5 separate regions of the Homo sapiens genome follow, and all the other regions are reported to be linked to region 5. The links are microRNA targets in miRTarBase. Many come from high-throughput screens and were not tested one by one. Region 5 holds a microRNA gene; each other region holds the end of a gene's coding sequence.
The links. Region 5 holds the annotated microRNA hsa-miR-6785-5p (UGGGAGGGCGUGGAUGAUGGUG, at 1,748-1,769, opposite strand). A microRNA usually pairs through its seed, bases 2 to 8, with sites in the 3' UTR of a target mRNA and lowers its output. Matches are read on the target gene's strand: a 7mer-m8 pairs with bases 2 to 8, a 7mer-A1 pairs with bases 2 to 7 and ends in A, and an 8mer does both.

Region 1 (3,000 bases), not on the chromosome of region 5:
AGCACCTGGCCCCTGAACAAATTCTTTAAGTCATATTAGCACCTGCTGCACGCCGGCACTGTGGAAGGAGGATGCTTGCTTGCTTCCTGGTAACCAGCTCTCTTATCTCAAACCTCAATCCTCAGTGAGGATCACAGGATCTGAGAAAGGCACCTTGGCCTGGAAACAGCCCCAGATGAGTGAGATTGCTGGTCCTCTCCCGGGATCCCAGGCCCAGGAAAACCTAGCCATGCTTGCAGTCAGGAGAGGGCAGGGGATAGAGCCCTGGCTCCCATTCAACCTCCTTAGCCAGGAGGACATGTCCCATTTTGCTTAGGAGTTGGGAGGTACCCTAGAATCACTTAGCTTCAGATGCCAAATTCCATCCACATTCTTTCCTCCAACTCTCTGGCAGTGGGGAACTGCCTCTCCAGGCAGGGAACTGCTCTGACAGGTCTGATGACTGCCTCCAGGAGGAAGCCCTGGGCACCAATGAAGGTGAGGGGCTGGAGGGCCCAGGACGGGGAGTCAAGGTCCCCACTCCCAGGACTAAGGGACAGTTTGGCTCCTTTTTCCTGCAGTGGGAGGGGTGAGAAGGGCTGGGGTGTTCTGCAAGGGCCTGCTCCATTTTCCAGGGTGAAGGAGAGGCCGAGGGAGGTGGAGCGGGAGGAGGTGGGGCTTACTGTGAAACTGGGTCAAGATGGCCTCGGATTTGAGCAGGCAGGGTCACCAGGCTCTGAGGCAGCAGCTGTGAGCAGTGCCGAGGGAGGACCAGCTCTGACGGTGAGGTCGGGTGGGGGACTAGAATCCAGCAGAGGAGCGAGGGCAGGGCTCCTACCAGGAAACCCATAGCATTGACACTAACTGAGAGGCAGCAAAGGCGGTGACACTCCCCCAGGCTCTGTGGGCCCAGCCCTACCCCTGAAGCACAGTTAACTGGTTCTGGGGTAGGAACTGGGGGCCGGAGGGACAGGGTTCTGGTTCTGGCTCAACCTTGGCTGCTGGTGAGATCCAGGGCCTGGGAAAGAGGGGCTGAGGCCTGAACTGGGCCTAAGGAGAGTGCAGCTCAGTTCGCACACAACAGCACCCAGCCCTGTCCCCTTGCTGCCTCTACCCAGCCCTGGGCAGTTCCCTCAACAGAGCTCTGCAGCCCCAAGTGGCAGCTGCTGGCTCAAAGCTGGGACTACATGAAAGTCTGAAAAGAGAATGAGAAGGAGGTGGCGCAAGAGCCTGGACGCACGTGTGGGAGGCCGTTTTGTGCAGCGCCATTGTGCTCCCCGGGCGGGCATGTGCTCGCGCTCCGTGGCTCTGTTGGTGCCCAGCGTGCGGGGGTGTGCTGGTGGCCCTGTGGGCCTGTAGGGCAACCCATGCCAACTGCGGAAAAGTAACCAGCACCATACACCCCCCCCAACACAAAACTGGTCATTTATTTTTTTTGTTGTCATTGTTATTAGGAAGCAAAAAAATGTACAGTTACAAGAATCATTTTCCAAACAGAGGTTAAATATGAGCTGAAAAGTGTAAAAAAGGAAGAGGAACATCACTTTACAAATCATTAAATTAAACAAATAAACAAACAGAACCCAAAGAACCAACCCCCCATGCTGAGTTCTCTCCTTGTGCAACTCTGCAAAATGAGAACAGAAAATGAAGTGGGCCGTGGAGGTGGGGGCCCTGGGGAGGGGCGGGAGCTGGGAGCCAGGAACAGGCAGGAGGGGGCTGCTGGGGCATGGACGCTGGCTTTCTGCCCCGTGTGCCTGGTGGTTTCTGGTACCTGGTCGTCGTACCTGGTGGCTCTACCCAGGCTGGGGGTCGAGGGGAGGGGCCCCCAGAGGCCCCTGCCAGCCTGTGGCATTCAAGCACTGCCAGGACAAGCCAGATTGGGCGGTGGAAACACACGGGACAGGGAGGCGGCCACCAGTGCCCAGGCTGGTACCTGCCGCAGGTGCCAGCCTGCACCTCTTCTGATCTGAACTTGCCCCAAGTCCACCTGCGTCTCCCTCCTTCTCTCCAGACTGCCCCCTCCCAGATCCTGAAAGGCCCCTGCAGCATCAAATGGTTGATTTTAGTCTTTGCTTAAATTAAAAAATTAAAATATATATACATATATATACTGTACACACAGGACAATAACAGAGAGTGTTGAAAAGGGAGGTACAAGAGCGGGCCGGGGAAAAGCCAGGGGCGGGGGCTGTGGCCCAGGGCTGCTGGGAGGGAGGCAGGGCTGGGTGATGGGACAAAGGCAGCGGGGAAGGGTGAGAAGTTAGGGGACCAGAATGGGGGGCAATTTATTTTACAATAAAAACAGGAGTTCAAACCTCAGCAGAACAGGACTCTGGGGTCCCCAGAGGGCCCTCCTCACACTGGGTGAGGAGGGGTGGGCTTAGGGGGACGACAGGGGTGGGCGGGGAGCTCGGCTTCAGGTTTAGATGATGACGGTCCCTGGTCTGAGGGAGAAGGGCTGGAGTCTCAGCTTCTCCGTGACTTCGAGTGTTGAATAAGCCACTGTAGGGTGATGTCTGATAGGAGAAAAGAGAACAGCTTATAAGGCCTGCAAGTACTGGCCGTGCTGGGGCAGCAGAGAGGCCCAAGAAACCAAACCTAAGGGTATCAGAAGTCCAGAGATGCCAGGAGGGGTGGCGCACACCTGGAGTCTCAGCTACATGGGAAGCTCAGGTGAGAGGATTGCTTGAACCCAGGAGTGGAGTTGGAGGCTGCAGTGAGCTATGGTCACGCCACTGAACTCCAGCCTGGGTGACAGAGCGAGACACTTTCTCAAAAACAAACAAGAAGTCCAGAGCTGGCAAGCGCCACATGGCCCTGAATGAGTAGTAGCGGAATTCAGGTGCTGGGAAAGAGACAGAGCCACAGCATGTCAGAGCCAGCAGGGACCTGAGAATCACCGGGTCCAGCCCTGGAATCTTAGAAACGAGGAGGTGAAGCCCAGAGCGGGGATCGATTTGCCCGAGATCACACAACCGCTTGGCGACAAGCTGGGATAGTGCCCAGAATCTGGGCCAC
Region 2 (3,000 bases), not on the chromosome of region 5:
TAAGATCCCAGGTTTTAGACAAGGCAGCTGTAGTCTCTCCATCATCCTCACTGTCCATTTGCTTCTTCCTGGGACAGACACTGTGGCCCAGTGAAGCTGAGGGGACCCTGGGATTCAAAGCTGGTGGAATGGACCCTCCCTCCCCCCACAAGCTGTAATAACCTGCTGGAATCCCACACAACCTGAGGGCTTCACTTGTCAACAGCTCCCTTCCCTCAGAGGCTATTTTGAGGCAGGCATTCGGTGTTTTATGACTGAGCTACCCAGGAGAATGGTTTGAGGCCACACTCAACTGTTCCAAGGAGCAGCACTGGACCAAAGGCTGCTTGGTTCCCTGCGGTTCCTGATGCCACCCCTTCTCTTCAGGGTGGTTACCTAGAAGACAACAGTACATGAGGCTTCCAGCCCAGCCCTAGGAGATCCATCCCAAAGACCCCACAGAGACCTGCATGGGAGGTGGGGCCACAGGTCTGGTATCAGGCAAACCTAGGTTGGAACACTGGCTCCATAAAGAGGAAGTCACTTAACCTTCTCTGGGGCATGGTTTCTTCATCTGTTCCCACCTCTGAAGACTATCGTAAGACAGAATGAAAGTTAAGCAACTTAACGCAACGCCCAGGATACCAGAATTATTCTAAATGGCAGAATCCTACTTAGTCTGTCATCTTGGGAGTTCTCTAGGCAGGCAGGTTGCCAGGGGTGGGGCTGAGATCCAGATGTGCTCTAGGTCCCTGTCTGCTGCAGAATCATGTGGCTGCTGGACCTGGGGGTCCCCCAGGTCCTTGCAGGAGCTGAGGGTAGGAGACTCCATTTGCCAAACAACTTAGAACTTTGGGCCTCAGTTTCCTTGTCTTTAAAAGGAACAGGTAAAGAATTCATAAAAACAATTGACAAGGGCTGCCTGGAATTTCCCTGTAATCTCTTCCAGGCAGAGGAGGCCTCAGAGGTGAGAGTAAGAGCAGGAAAACAGGGACAGGTTTCACTCTGTTGCCCAGGTGTGGTGGCTCAGGTCTGTAATCCCAGCACTTTGGGAGGCTGAGATGGGAGGATCGCTTGAGGCCAGGAGTTTGAGATCAGCCTGGGCAACACAGTGAGACCCATCTCTGCCAAAAAAATAAAACAATAAACCAGGCATGGTGGTACATACCTGTTAGTCTTAGCTACTCGGGAGGCTGAGGCAGGAGGACTGATTGATCCCAGGAGTTCAAGGCTGCAGTAAGCTGTGCCTGGGTGACAGAGCAAGACCCTGTCTCTCAAGAAAAAAAAAAAAAAAAAAAAAAGGCTGGGCGTGGTGGCTCATGCCTGTAACCCCAGCACTTTGGGAGGCTGAGGCAGGTGGATCATGAGGTCAGGAGATTGAGACCATCCTGGCCAACATGGCAAAACCCCGTCTCTATTAAAGAATGCAAAAAATTAGCCGGATGTGGTGGCACACGCCTGTAGTCCCAGCTACTCAGGGGACTTGCTTGAACCTGGGAGCGGGAGGTTGCAGTGAGCCGAGATCACACCACTGCACTCCAGCGTGGCAACAGAGCAAGACTCTGTCTCAAAAAGAAGAAACAAACAAACAACAAAAAAAACAGCACAGAAGGGTGGTGCTGTGGGCAGAGGGGTATTTCCAGTGGATGGGCTGTTACTGTTTTCTCAGGTTGGTCAAGATCACAGGCCCATGGAATGCTGGGGCCAGAAGGCACTAAGGCCACAGCATCAACATCTACTTCCCAGAGCATAACACCAAGGCCCAGAGCAACTGGGTAATGTGCTGGGAGCTACAATGAGTTTGAGGCAGAGTCTGGGCTAAAACCCATGTCTCCAGACGGGTTTAGGGAGGATCTTAGAAGTTTTAGAAAACATAATGCTTAGTTATGGCTGGGTGTGGTGTCTCACGCCTGTAATCCCAGCACTTTGGGAGGCCGAGGCAGGCAGATCACCTGAGGTCAGGAGTTTGAGACCAGCCTGGCCAACATGGTGAAACCCCATCTCTATAAAAGTTACCCAGGTGTGTTATGCACCTGTAATCCCAGCTACTCGGGAGGCTGAGGCAGGAGAATCATTTGAACCTGGGAGGCAGAGGTTGTAGTGAGCCGCCGAGATCGTGCCACTGCACTCCAGCCTGGGCGACAGAGCGAGACTCTGTCTCAAAAAAAAAAAAAGAAAATATAATGCTTAGTTCTGGTTTAAATTTGCTCACTGACTTTTCTTCTTTGAAGAATCAAATCTAGCTTATGACTCATAAACTAGATAACTATGATAATCTAGTTTATGATTCAGATACACTACGGTGGTAAATTCCTACAATTCAACTTCATGATTTAGCTCTAGTGCTGTAGGAGGGGTCCAGAGAGCTGAGGTCTGCCACTGCACTCAGGCTTGTGGGGGCTGGGTAACACCACCCTGCAGGTGGTAGTGAGAAAAAGAGGACTTGGGTGTTGTTATCTTCTGTGGCAGCAGCTGCCCTGGGGGTTCTGCAGGGAGGGGACAGGGTGAGGCCTTGGGGATAGGGCATTCGGGGCCCACCAGCCTGTGTGGCCTCAGTCTCAGGGAGAAGGAGCACCCGGGTGGCAGTAGAAGCCTCCAGGGAACCTCAGCTGGCATCATTGATGGGAGTGCGGGTGCCACCCAGCAGTCTCTCCTGCTCGCTCTCCTCTGCCAGGGGCCGGCCCCTGGACAGGCGGCCCAGCAGCGGACGGTGTAGCCCATTGTAGAGGGCAGTGCCTATAAGGAGTATGAGGAAGCCAAGGATCTGCAGTGCATGGAAGGCCTCCCAGCCCAGTGCCAGGCTCAGTGCCCAGATGACAACGGTGCGCAAGCTGTCCAACACCATGCGGGTGGTGGCGCTCAGTTCCTTGGTGACGCTGATGCCTGCGAAGTTGAAGAAGGCAATGCTGCTGATGTTGCCCAGCAGTGCCACGGCAATGAGCGGCTGCTGGCCCACCTGGCAGAAGGCGTCCAATGCATCCTCCAGTGTCCCACGAGGGTTTCCGCTGAAGGAGCCGGCGG
Region 3 (3,000 bases), not on the chromosome of region 5:
GAGTTCAGGTCCTTCTGTCTTGGACTTAAGAATGCAGCCCCCAGCCCTGGTCTCCCTGGGACACTGACATCTGACACCCCAGGCCCCATGCCCCAGCCCCTTCCCTCCCCAGAGGCCGGTGTGCCACCCTCCCCAGTGCCATGTTTGACCCCTGCAGACCCTGGCCATCGAGGGCGGCGCCGAGGACCTGGGCCAGGAGGAGGTGGTCCAGCAGTGCATGCGGAACCAGCCGTGGCTGGAACAGCTCTTTGACTCCTTCAGTGACCTGCTGGCCCAAGCACAGGCCCACAGCCGCTGCGGGTGACCCCGCCCCAGCTTGTGAGGGGGGCGCCTCCTCCATGAACCGAGAATTGGGACAGAACCGTGTCCTCAGGAGCTAACACCTGGGCTCCATCGCCGGGGAAAGGGGGTCATGGGTCAGGGTGTGTCTGTGCTGCCCCCTCCAGGGCAGGGTTCAAAGTCCGACTCCCCCCCTCTCCCAAGCCCCCTCCACTCCCTCCCCATTCCTCCCACTGTTCGGTGTACAGAGAAATTATTTATATATATGTATAAATGTCTATTTAGTAACGGTTTCCCTCTCCCCTTGCCCCGACCCCCCCTCCACAGCCACAGCCCCCGCCCCCTCCACCTTGTACATAATGTATAGGAAAAGTCTATGTATGGCTGGGGGGGGTGGGGTGGCTTCAGAGAGCTGGGGGACCCCTTCCCCCCAAGTCCCCCCTGCAGGCCAAGATCTTTGCTAAAGGCCATTCCCTCCGCAGGGCATTTGGCGTCGGGTGGGAGGGGAAAACGCATCTTGTTAATTATTTTTAATCTTATTTATTGTACATACCTGGGGCAGGGGCTTGGGGAGGTGGAGGGGGGAGAAGGGTCCCCTCTCTCTGCCCCTCCCACTCCTTTTCTACGGCGATTTGTCTGTGTCTGGCCCCCACCCACTGCCCATCCCCCATTGTTGTCTGGATGTGGTTCTATTTTTTATCGGTCTCCTTTCCCCTCCTCCCCGTTCTCGCCCCCGCCCCACCCCCTGCTCCCACTACCCTTTGTCTCTTGCTCTTTCTTGGGCTTCTGTACAACTCAACTTGTATACACTGTGTACACACAACCAGCCAAACGAAAACCCAACGGCAAACACTTTACCGGCAGGCTGGAGTGCCTCTGTCCTGCGGCGCTGGAGTGGGTGGCAGTGGTAGCAGGGGCAGAGGTTCTGGAACGGGACTTTCCCAGAGCCCTGGGCAGTGGGGGGCCTGAGGCTGGCATATGTTCTGTGTCCCCGCACAGCAGAGTATCCCACCCTGAAATTTAATGACTTCAGACAACAAATATTTATCACTGGGGGGTTTCTTTTGTTTTTTAGCTAAAGACAGGGTCTCGCTCTGTCACCTAGGCTGGAGTGCAGTGGCATGATCATAGCTCACTGCAGCCTCCAACTCCCTGGCTCAAGCGATCCTCCTGCCTCAGCCTCCCAAAGTGACGGGATTACAGGCAAGTGCCACTGTGCCTGGCCCTGTGTTCTTTATGTTACCCAGGCTGGCCTTGAACTTCTGGGCTTAAAAGATCCTCCTGCCCCAGTCTCAAGTAGTTGGCATTACGGGTGCATGCCACTACACCCAGTTCAAATCCTGTAGTGTTTTGTTTTGGTTTTTTTTTTTGAGACAGAGTCTCGCTCTGTCACCCAGCCTGGAGTGCAGTGGTTCGATCTTGGCTCATGCAACCTCAGCCTCCCCGGTTCAAGCGATTCTCCTGCCTCAGCCTCCCAAGTAGCTGGGATTACAGGGGCCTACCACTACATCCAGCAAATTTTTGTATTTTTAGTAGAAACCAGGTTTCACCATGTCGGCCAGGCTGGTCTCGAACTCCTGACCTCAAGTGATCCGCCAGCCTCAGCCTTCCAAAGAGATTACAGGTGTGAGCCACTGCGCCCGGCCTCAAGTCCTGTATTCTTGAATCCAAGTGAGTGGTCCATGGTACAGCACTCTTGGAGTTCCCCAAGCACTTGTATAAATGTAGAATCGGCACAGGCAGCAGACGAGGAGAGGGCAGGTTGAATAGGGCTGTTTCTCCTCCTCCCACCCTTAAAGGAAAAGATGTAGAATCTCAGGCTGTTGCTCTGGTCTACTTGATCAGAACCCACTTTTTAGTAAAATGCCGAGAGGATTCTCAAGCACATTCAAGTTTGAAGAACCGTGTTCTAGAACAAGAATGTTAAAAATGTGCAGGTTGGCTGGGCACGGTGGCTCACGGCTATAATCCCAGCACTGTGGGAGGCCGGGGCGGGGGGATCACTTGAGGTCAGGAGTTCGAGACCGGCCTGACCAACATGGTGAAACCCCGTCTCTACTAAAAATACAAAAATCAGCCAGGCGTGGTGGCGTGCGTCTATAATCCCAGCTACATGGGAGGCTGAGGCTGAGGCAGGAGAATCGCTTGAATCCAGGGGGCGGAGGTTGCAGTGAGTTGAGATCGTGCCATTGCACCACTCCAGCCTGGCTGACAGAGCGAGACTCCATCTCAAAAAATAAAAAATGTGGAGGTCAACTGGCAATATTTTAGAACCCAGTCTATGAAGCAGTGAACAGGCTGTTGTCATTCTAGAGCCTGGATGGATGGACCACTGGTGTTCCAGAACCCTGGCTTAGTCCGTGGGTAGGGACCCAGTGTGAGATTTGAGGGTGGAACATCAGCATTCCAGATGCCCTTTTAGGTGAGATTCAGGGAGAACCCTCATCGTTCTAGAACCTTGAGTATTGTTCCAGGGGTGTCCAAGGAGAGAATACAGTCATGGGTTCTTAGTTTCTGTTGTACCAGTAAAGCCCCTTCCTCATCCCTCTTTTTTGTTTATTACTAGAGACAGAAACTAAAAACCATGGCTTCAGGCTGCTAAAAGCCTAAAACAAAACAGAACAACAACAAAATAAGGTGGGTTGGACAAATCTGGACTCTAGACCATCACATGTTACAGATTTTTTTTTTTTTTTTTTTTTTTTTGACGGAATCTCGATC
Region 4 (3,000 bases), not on the chromosome of region 5:
ACACCCATACCACTTCATAGATGCAGAGTGTGTCTCCTGGGGATGTGGAGTACGTGTGCGTGTCTTTCTCTCCATGTGACTTTGGGTGAGTGGCTTCTCTGTGAGCCTCAGTCCCTCCATCTGTTGGGACTGTAATAGGACTGACCCCACATGGGATGGTGGGAGCCGATGCCATGGTATACTGGTGCCTGGAAACGCAGCAGTTCAGTAAGAGGTGGTTGTCTCTGATAATACGCGGAAAGGGGTGGCCACCTCCAGCACTCAGGCTTTGATGGGTGGGCACACCCATTCAGTCACCCAGCAAGTATCTGTGAGGACCTACTGGGTGCTGGGTGGGCCCTGCTGTAAAACTCCAGCCGCTACAGGGGTCAGGCTTGATCTCTCCTCCCCAGCTAATAATCAAATAGTGGCTACCATTTAGTTTACACAGAATAAGCTGAAGCCTCAGAGAAGCAAAACGTCTTGCCCAAGATCCCAGAGTGAAGTTGCTTGAGGGAAGCTGCCCCACCCACCCCTTTGATTGACAAGTCAAGGCCTAGGTTTGAGCTCTAAGAGAAGGGCCACCTGTCTGGCTGGGATGCTGGCAGGACTGGAAATGGCAGGGCTGGCTGAGGATGGGGGCTGCCAGAAGAGCCCCTCTTCCTGGTGTACGGCCGTTGGGGGTAGCTGAGGTCGGTACAGTATCGATTCTGTCACCACATCCGGGGGCTGGGGCTGAGGAAGGAAGTCTGAGGCTGGAGTGAAAACCCAAACCACCACCTGGGGAACTGCATTGAGCCCAGAGGGATGGGCAGGGAGCACACCACGTGGAGCCCACGAAGGCTCCCCTTGGCGTCATCTAAGGGCCTCCTGCCCACCTGCACCCTTTTTCCTGAAGGGCAGATGACTGTCCCAGCAAAACGCTGCCATGTCCTGAGTGTCCAGACAGCGGCCTCCATCCTTTCTCGTATGTTCACTGGGGCCTGCTGGGGGACTGGGGCACAGCCCTTTACAACCCAGGAACTGGGCATTAGTGCCCTGTGGCAGAGGTGCTAGGATTACCGAGGACGCCTGGCTGGTAGGTGGTGGAAGCCTCCTCGAGACAGGAGCAGCGGTCCCCTCCGTCTCATCTGGAGCATGTGGACACCTGCTCCCTCTTTTTAAGGCTGTGGACCCAGTGAAATGCCATGTAAAGCACTCAGTACAGTAGACGTGGACCACTGAGAAGGGAAAGGAGGGACGCATCAGGACATGAGCCACGAGGGCTCGGGCACCTGCGGCACCTCCTCCCAGCATGGAGGAGCCTGCGCCCCAAAGCCATCATCCTCCACTGGCAGGTGCAGCCTTTTCCCTCCCTGCTCCTTGTGGGCCTGGGATGGGAACAGGAAGGGGGTTTACGTCCTCTGGGCACCAGCCCTTTGGCCTCGCCACCACCCTCACACATCCCAGGCGGGGCTGAGGCTTCAGCTGGACTGTCATCATAGTATCTGCTCCCCAGGGCTCTACCCCTGGGGAGGGAGCACTTAGGGACAGAAAGGGCACAAGGAGATTCGGTCCAGTGCCTCCACTTCTCTCCACCCACACCCCACCCAAGCTCTGGGCCCGTCTCCGGCCCCTGCTGCCCTACCACAAAACCCCAACCCATCATATCCCCTCTCTCCAAACTCCACCCAACCCAGGCAGAGCCGGTCACTCCTCCCCCAAAGTCCCCAGTGCCCTCAACAGATGGCACCGTCACCCATCTTACTCCAAAGGGTTTATTGAGACAAGTTTTCACATACAAGATGGGGACAGAGGGGTTGGGGCTTATAAACAGGAACCTGGAAGGGGACCGAGGGTGCAGGGTAGAACCAAACAAGAGAGTGAAATAAATAGAGGGAAAGAGTGGAGACAGGGAGGAGACTGACTGAGACCATCACACAGTGATAATGCGGGTGGGGCGGCGCCATGAAAATCCCGTTATTTATACAGATATACAGGGAGTTCAGGGGGACCCGAGGCCCACTCCACCCTCCATGCCCCAGGGAGGGGCACAAGAAAGCCGTCTCTACCCATGGGCGACCCCATGGGGCGCTGGGAGGGCTGCCCTAGGAGTGTTGGGCAATCCCTGGCCTGGAAGCCTTGGTTAGTGTCTGGAAAGCAGTGGAGAGGGCCGGAGGGGAGGGGCAGCCAGGCCGGGGCTCAGCTCTGAGGCTCCCGGCTGCCACCCTTTCTCCCAGCACAGCTCCTGCCCAGGTCTGGGAGGATGGGGGATGGGGGAGCAGGAGCTCAAGGGGAGAACCTGGCACCTTCTGGAGTCTTGGAAAAACTGATCCCTAAAGACACCCGGCCCTGGCTGTGCTGCCCTCTGGAAAGCAGCTCTGATACCAGGAGCGGCTGTCAGGGCACAGGGGGAAACCCCGAGGCCATCCTCGGGGGTGATTCCTGAAAGGGGCCCATCCCCAGGCTGGATGCTTGGGGAAGGCAGCCGTTGGGGAGGGATTCCTGGGGAAAGGGCCGTTAGCACCACCAGGCTCCATGGCAAACAGACAGAGGCCAGGCCTCTGCACCTCCAGCGAGGCTGGGAGTCCCCTGCGGGAAAGAGAAGGGAGGGGAGACTGAGCCGCCGCCTCTAGGGCGCCTCTAAGGCCTCAACCCCTCCCCTGCATGCCCAGGGCTCCCCCAGTGATTCTCACAGGACGCCCCTGACTGGACTGCGGGGCTCAGCACACCTGGCAGTACTAGGCATGGGCGTGCAGAGACTCAGAATGCGGGGTTTCTGCCCTCACCTCAGCCCCACCTGCCCGGCCCTACACCCCAGCCAGCGTGGCGGCCAGGGCAGGGCCAGGTGGGCATCATACGAAGACCTTGGCCAGGGCATCAGCGCCAGCACTGGCAATGAGGGCCTTGCTGGGGTGGCAGGCAACAGCGTGGATGGCCTCCTCGTGCTTCTTGCGGTGGGCCGTGATCTCCTGCACGCACGTTTTGTTGTCCAGGCTCCAGAGACGCAGGGAGCAGTCATGGCCTGCACATGTGTCGGGG
Region 5 (4,186 bases):
GGCTCTGTAACCATTAACCTCTTCCCCCAACTAACACCAATGAAAACACCATTCCACGTGACTGGGCTGTGTGTTTGCCTCTGTGACATGGGGACCCCTGACCCTAGGGGTCTCGCCTGAGCCAGACCTGAGGGACCCACCCGCGTAGATGGAGGAAGGTTTAGGCCTCCCTTTGCCAGCCACCGCCGGGGGTGGGCAGACCCTGGAGTGGCCTTACAGACCAGCCACAGGTATTTCTTAGCAATTGACACATTTTAATACAAACCAGTCTACATTCATTCCTAAAAGGCTCATTTCCAGTAAAAAATATACACCAGTAGAAACTTCTCCCAGAACTGGGGCAGAGGCTGAGGAGACCTGGGCCAGATTCCCCAAGACTGACAGGCAGCCAGCTTGAGCCAGGCACAGGAAGAGGCTCCAGGGCGAAGCGGGGGCCCTGCTCCATCTTCAGGTTCAGGCGGGAGACTCCCCCACAGAGGGAGGGAGGGGAGGCACTCGGGGCCACATCCAGGCAAGCACCACCCCCCTGCCCTCCACGGCAGCCTTGGGAGTTGGACGCGTCGGCCAAGGCTGCTGCTGTTGCTCCTCCAAAGAAGGTTGGCTTCAAGGCCGTGTCCAGGGACCCACGAGCAGAGGCACTGGGGGGCAAGGGATCTCCAAGGGGGCAAGGGATCCCTAAAGGGGGTAGCTCACAGGTGAGGGGGTTTAGGGCCCCTCTAGGGAGCGCCTGAGGCCATACATTCAAGAGTGTCCCTGGTGAGGCCCAGGGAAGAGCCAGGACTGGCCAAGGGCCCAGGCCGTCAGCTCCTCCACAGTGAGCCCCAGGGCTCAGGAAGACAGCGGGGTCTGACACGGGGAGCTGGGTTTCCAGTGCCACGGGTGCAGGAGCAAACCTGGAAACATTCATGATACAAACTCCCCTGTTCAGAAATGGGTCTGGCTTTAGCCCCAGGGACGGGGGCAACTACAGCCACCACAGCCAGTGGCTCAGAAGGGAGAGTTCATGCCCAGCTTAGTTTCAAACTGCAGCTTCTGTCGCTTCTGGTAGCGGACTCGGACCCTGGTGGGGCAGGAGATTAAAGTACAGGTTGGCAAAGATCCTTAGACCAGGGGCCGGGGCAGGACACCAGAGGAGGAGGGAGGGATGGGCAGCGGAAAGGTGGGGGAGTGTCGCCAAGGGAGTAACAGGTTTAGGGAACATGCCTGAGCCCAGAGGGAGGCGCCCTGCTGACAGCTCACCGAATCTCATGTAGCTTCACGATCTCATTGGTCACCACCACAAGGACCAGGGACAGGCAGCCCAGGAGCCATGTCAGCAGGGGCACGTCCTCCAGGCCAAAGTGGACGTGGCTGTCCCTGTGTGTCCACAGCTGCAGGTCCACAGCCGTCTGGACCACCTGACCCAGCAGCCTGCAGGAGGTGGCGGCCCCGTGTGAACCCGACACTGCTTGCTTCCTTCCCTGCTCTTCCCAGTACAACAGTTAGCTCAGGCAGGGTACAGTTAAACCACTGGCCCCGGTCCCGCCCTCCGATCCTAGCCCTGCAGAAGGCCCTCTCCTCCCCAGCCCACACTCCGCCCTCCATCCTAGCAATACTCACACCACAGGCACTGTCACGGCCCACCAGAGGTTGGTCAAGGGGCTCTTTCTCCACAGGGGCTTGGTGCGATGCACATGGGTGATGGAAATGAAGACTGGGGAAGGTGGGGCGATGTGGGGGTCAGACTTCCACAGTGGGGCTCCTCTCCCACCATCATCCACGCCCTCCCAGGGAGCCCTCTCACCAGTGTGCAGGACAATCAGGGCGGCCGTGAGCTTCTGAGCCGACAGCAGTCCATTGGCAAAGTCCTCAAACCAGGCTGGAGCCCTGTCGTCGTTGCTGCCAAAGTGAGGCATGGGCTCAGCCCCTCTAGGGCCGCAGGGAGGTAGGCTGGGGTGGGGAGGGAGGAAGCCTCGAGGCGAGGCAGGCGATGGGTGGATCTCTGGGGCTGGGACCCACCTGGGCAGCATGACGGAGGAGCAGTTGGTGAGGTTGCGGTCCCGGGAGCTGTCACAGAAGCTCTGCAGTGTGAAGCCAAAGCAGATGAGGCAGGAGCTGATGGTGAGGCTGAACTTGAGCAGGAAGCAGAGCAGGAAGTAGTGCTGGGTCTGCGGGAACAAGGCCAGTCACTCCTGGGGCGCACAGCCCCTCTGCCGGCTGCTCCTAGCTCTTCCACGTATTCAACGGGCTCTTAGTAAATGGTCAGGCCTGGGGGGATAGGGAGCTCAAGCCCCAGCAAGGGTCTTTCCCAGCTCTGTGCCACTACCTCCTCTTTGATCTGGGGGAAGACTAGGAACCAAGTGCCGGAGTTCTGCTGGAATCCCCCATCCAGAGCCTTCCAGATTAGCCCCTCTCTCCTCCCCCAATCCTCAGTCCCTTCCATGCTCACTTGCAAGGCTCACAGGGTCTGTTTTGCTTACCTTCTTGGGAATGGACTGGAGGTTTTTCCCCGTTGCCATAGACATGATGGAGCTATGGGGGGGCTTCCCCAGCAGAGAGATGCTGAAAAGCAGAGATCAGGTAGAGGGATGGTGACAATGACCCTCTGTCCCTCAATTCTCATAGAGGGAACCTCTAGGGAGTCTTGCGCGTGAGGTCGAGTCTGGTGAGGGGATGGAATAAAACAAAGGCTGGACGGCAGTGGCTCACACCTGTAATCCCAGCACTTTGGGAGGCTGAGATGGGCAGATCATTTGAGGTCAGGAGTTCAAAACCAGCCTCGCCAACATGGCAAAAACCCATCTCTACTAAAAATACAAAAATTAGCCAGGCATGATAGTGGGTGCCTGTAATCCCAGCTACTCAGGGGGCTGAGGCAGGAGAATCACTTGAGCCCGGGAGGCGGAGGTTGCAATGAGCAGAGATTGCACCATTGCACTCCAGCCTGGGTGACAGAGCGAGACTCCATCTCAAAAAAAAAAAAAAAAAAAAAAAAAAAGACAAAGGGGGTTCCCTCCATGCCTCCTGTACCAGAGGAGGTGAGACCTGAGCAGTTCCAGAACCTTGGGCTCCTGGGGCTGCACAGTGACATCCAGACACCTCCTGCTTAGGCATGGGGTGTGGGGAAGATACATGGCATCTCACCTGAGCAGAGGGTAGCAAAAGCAGGACAGCCACAGGATGTCGGTGGTACTCAGGAGTGGCGGCAGCTGGACCAGGCAAGAAAGGAACTAGACCAGGAAAGAAGCCAAGAGCCACAGTTCAATTCAGGCAAATAATAAGGGCATAGGAGCCCCCGAGCTCCCTTGCCCTGGGCCCAGATAGATGCTCACATCCTGCCAGAGGGAACAGGGGCCGGAGGGAATACTCTTCTGCCAATGAGGGTCAGCTCAAAAAGCCCAGGGGCTTCACAGAGGCTCTGGGGGGACCCCTTGACTGTACTGCTAACCCCAGCCTCCTTCCTCAGATTTTCAGCTGGCCCCTGAGTGAAGGGGTGAGTGGCACGGGGGCAATGCCTGTGCGGGCCCCACCTCACCTGGATGACCACAAGAGTCAGCTGGCACTGCAGCAGGAAGAGGAAGCACTTACGGATGCCATAGGTGGCATGCCGAGCCTAGGGACCAAGAGGGACAGATTATGGCCTGGGTCTACCTGGCCTCTCCCAGGCCCAACAGCTGACACACTTTAGCCAAGAGCCAGACGCCCAGGATGCTTCTACGAGGGGAGCAGAGGCGAATGTAACTGCCTGGGAGAGCCCGCTCGGAGGGCTGGGGAATGAGGTCCCCGGGTTCAAACAGGTCCTTTGCTGCTACTCCCACCCCAGGCGGGTCCTGTCCTGCGTCTCTCCTCCTTTGCCTGCCGAAGCACCCACCTGTTCGATAAGCCGGATGATGCTGATGGTCTCCTCCTGGCGAAAGGTCAGGGAACAGGGCAGGCTGTTGAGCTGCCCTGACAGCTGCAGGGGAGAAAGGCCATCCGAGGCCTGGGCCATGCTGATGCTGGTGGCGTAGCCAAAGGTCTCCCAGGAGCAACGGGATGGGTACAGGGGATCCAGGGCAATGCTGCTCAGGGTGGGGGACACACACACTTCAGCTGTATCTCCCACAGGACTGGGCACCCCACCCTCTTCTCCCACCATGCCCAGGTGCATTGGTCCCAGCCAGGGCGAGGTCGGCTATAGTACACACCCCCAGCCCCACGCAGGCCC

Region 1: the mRNA of ARL8A is a reported target of hsa-miR-6785-5p. Seed matches in the 3' UTR shown: 8mer at 2,188-2,195, 7mer-m8 at 1,797-1,803 and 7mer-m8 at 1,657-1,663.
Region 2: the mRNA of SLC35F6 is a reported target of hsa-miR-6785-5p. Seed matches in the 3' UTR shown: 7mer-m8 at 2,471-2,477, 7mer-A1 at 2,062-2,068, 7mer-A1 at 1,907-1,913, 7mer-A1 at 1,320-1,326, 7mer-A1 at 1,042-1,048, 7mer-A1 at 1,029-1,035 and 1 more.
Region 3: the mRNA of PRR12 is a reported target of hsa-miR-6785-5p. Seed matches in the 3' UTR shown: 7mer-m8 at 495-501, 7mer-A1 at 506-512 and 8mer at 886-893.
Region 4: the mRNA of STRN4 is a reported target of hsa-miR-6785-5p. Seed matches in the 3' UTR shown: 7mer-m8 at 2,453-2,459, 7mer-A1 at 2,218-2,224, 7mer-m8 at 2,138-2,144, 8mer at 2,054-2,061 and 7mer-m8 at 2,003-2,009.

Annotation. Positions count from the first base shown.
Region 1 is chr1:202,132,019-202,135,018 of GRCh38, forward strand. It overlaps ARL8A (ARF like GTPase 8A), which reads right to left. Exons shown (of 7, transcript NM_138795.4): 7 at 1,386-2,498. The coding sequence ends at 2,449. It overlaps GPR37L1 (G protein-coupled receptor 37 like 1), which reads left to right. Exons shown (of 2, transcript NM_004767.5): 2 at 1-1,574. Among named protein-coding and RNA genes, the nearest start is that of GPR37L1, 11 kb to the left of the region's middle.
Region 2 is chr2:26,778,096-26,781,095 of GRCh38, reverse strand. It overlaps SLC35F6 (solute carrier family 35 member F6), which reads right to left. Exons shown (of 6, transcript NM_017877.4): 6 at 1-3,000. The coding sequence ends at 2,585. Among named protein-coding and RNA genes, the nearest start is that of CENPA, 6.5 kb to the left of the region's middle.
Region 3 is chr19:49,625,304-49,628,303 of GRCh38, forward strand. PRR12 (proline rich 12) reads left to right here. Exons shown (of 14, transcript NM_020719.3): 14 at 158-1,136. The coding sequence ends at 304. Among named protein-coding and RNA genes, the nearest start is that of RRAS, 13 kb to the right of the region's middle.
Region 4 is chr19:46,717,789-46,720,788 of GRCh38, forward strand. STRN4 (striatin 4) reads right to left here. Exons shown (of 18, transcript NM_013403.3): 17 at 2,748-2,983; 18 at 1,723-2,550. The coding sequence ends at 2,814. LOC107987269 reads right to left here and starts at 1,934. Exons shown (of 4, transcript XM_017027568.2): 1 at 858-1,934; 2 at 565-714; 3 at 11-188. The coding sequence starts at 1,275. RefSeq lists an enhancer at 572-621.
Region 5 is chr17:75,496,136-75,500,321 of GRCh38, reverse strand. MIR6785 (microRNA 6785) reads right to left here and starts at 1,774; the gene lies at 1,694-1,774. It overlaps TMEM94 (transmembrane protein 94), which reads right to left. Exons shown (of 32, transcript NM_014738.6): 24 at 3,851-4,040; 25 at 3,515-3,592; 26 at 3,124-3,209; 27 at 2,460-2,541; 28 at 1,999-2,147; 29 at 1,784-1,878; 30 at 1,600-1,693; 31 at 1,240-1,410; 32 at 1-1,060. The coding sequence ends at 988. It overlaps CASKIN2 (CASK interacting protein 2), which reads left to right. Exons shown (of 20, transcript NM_020753.5): 20 at 1-61.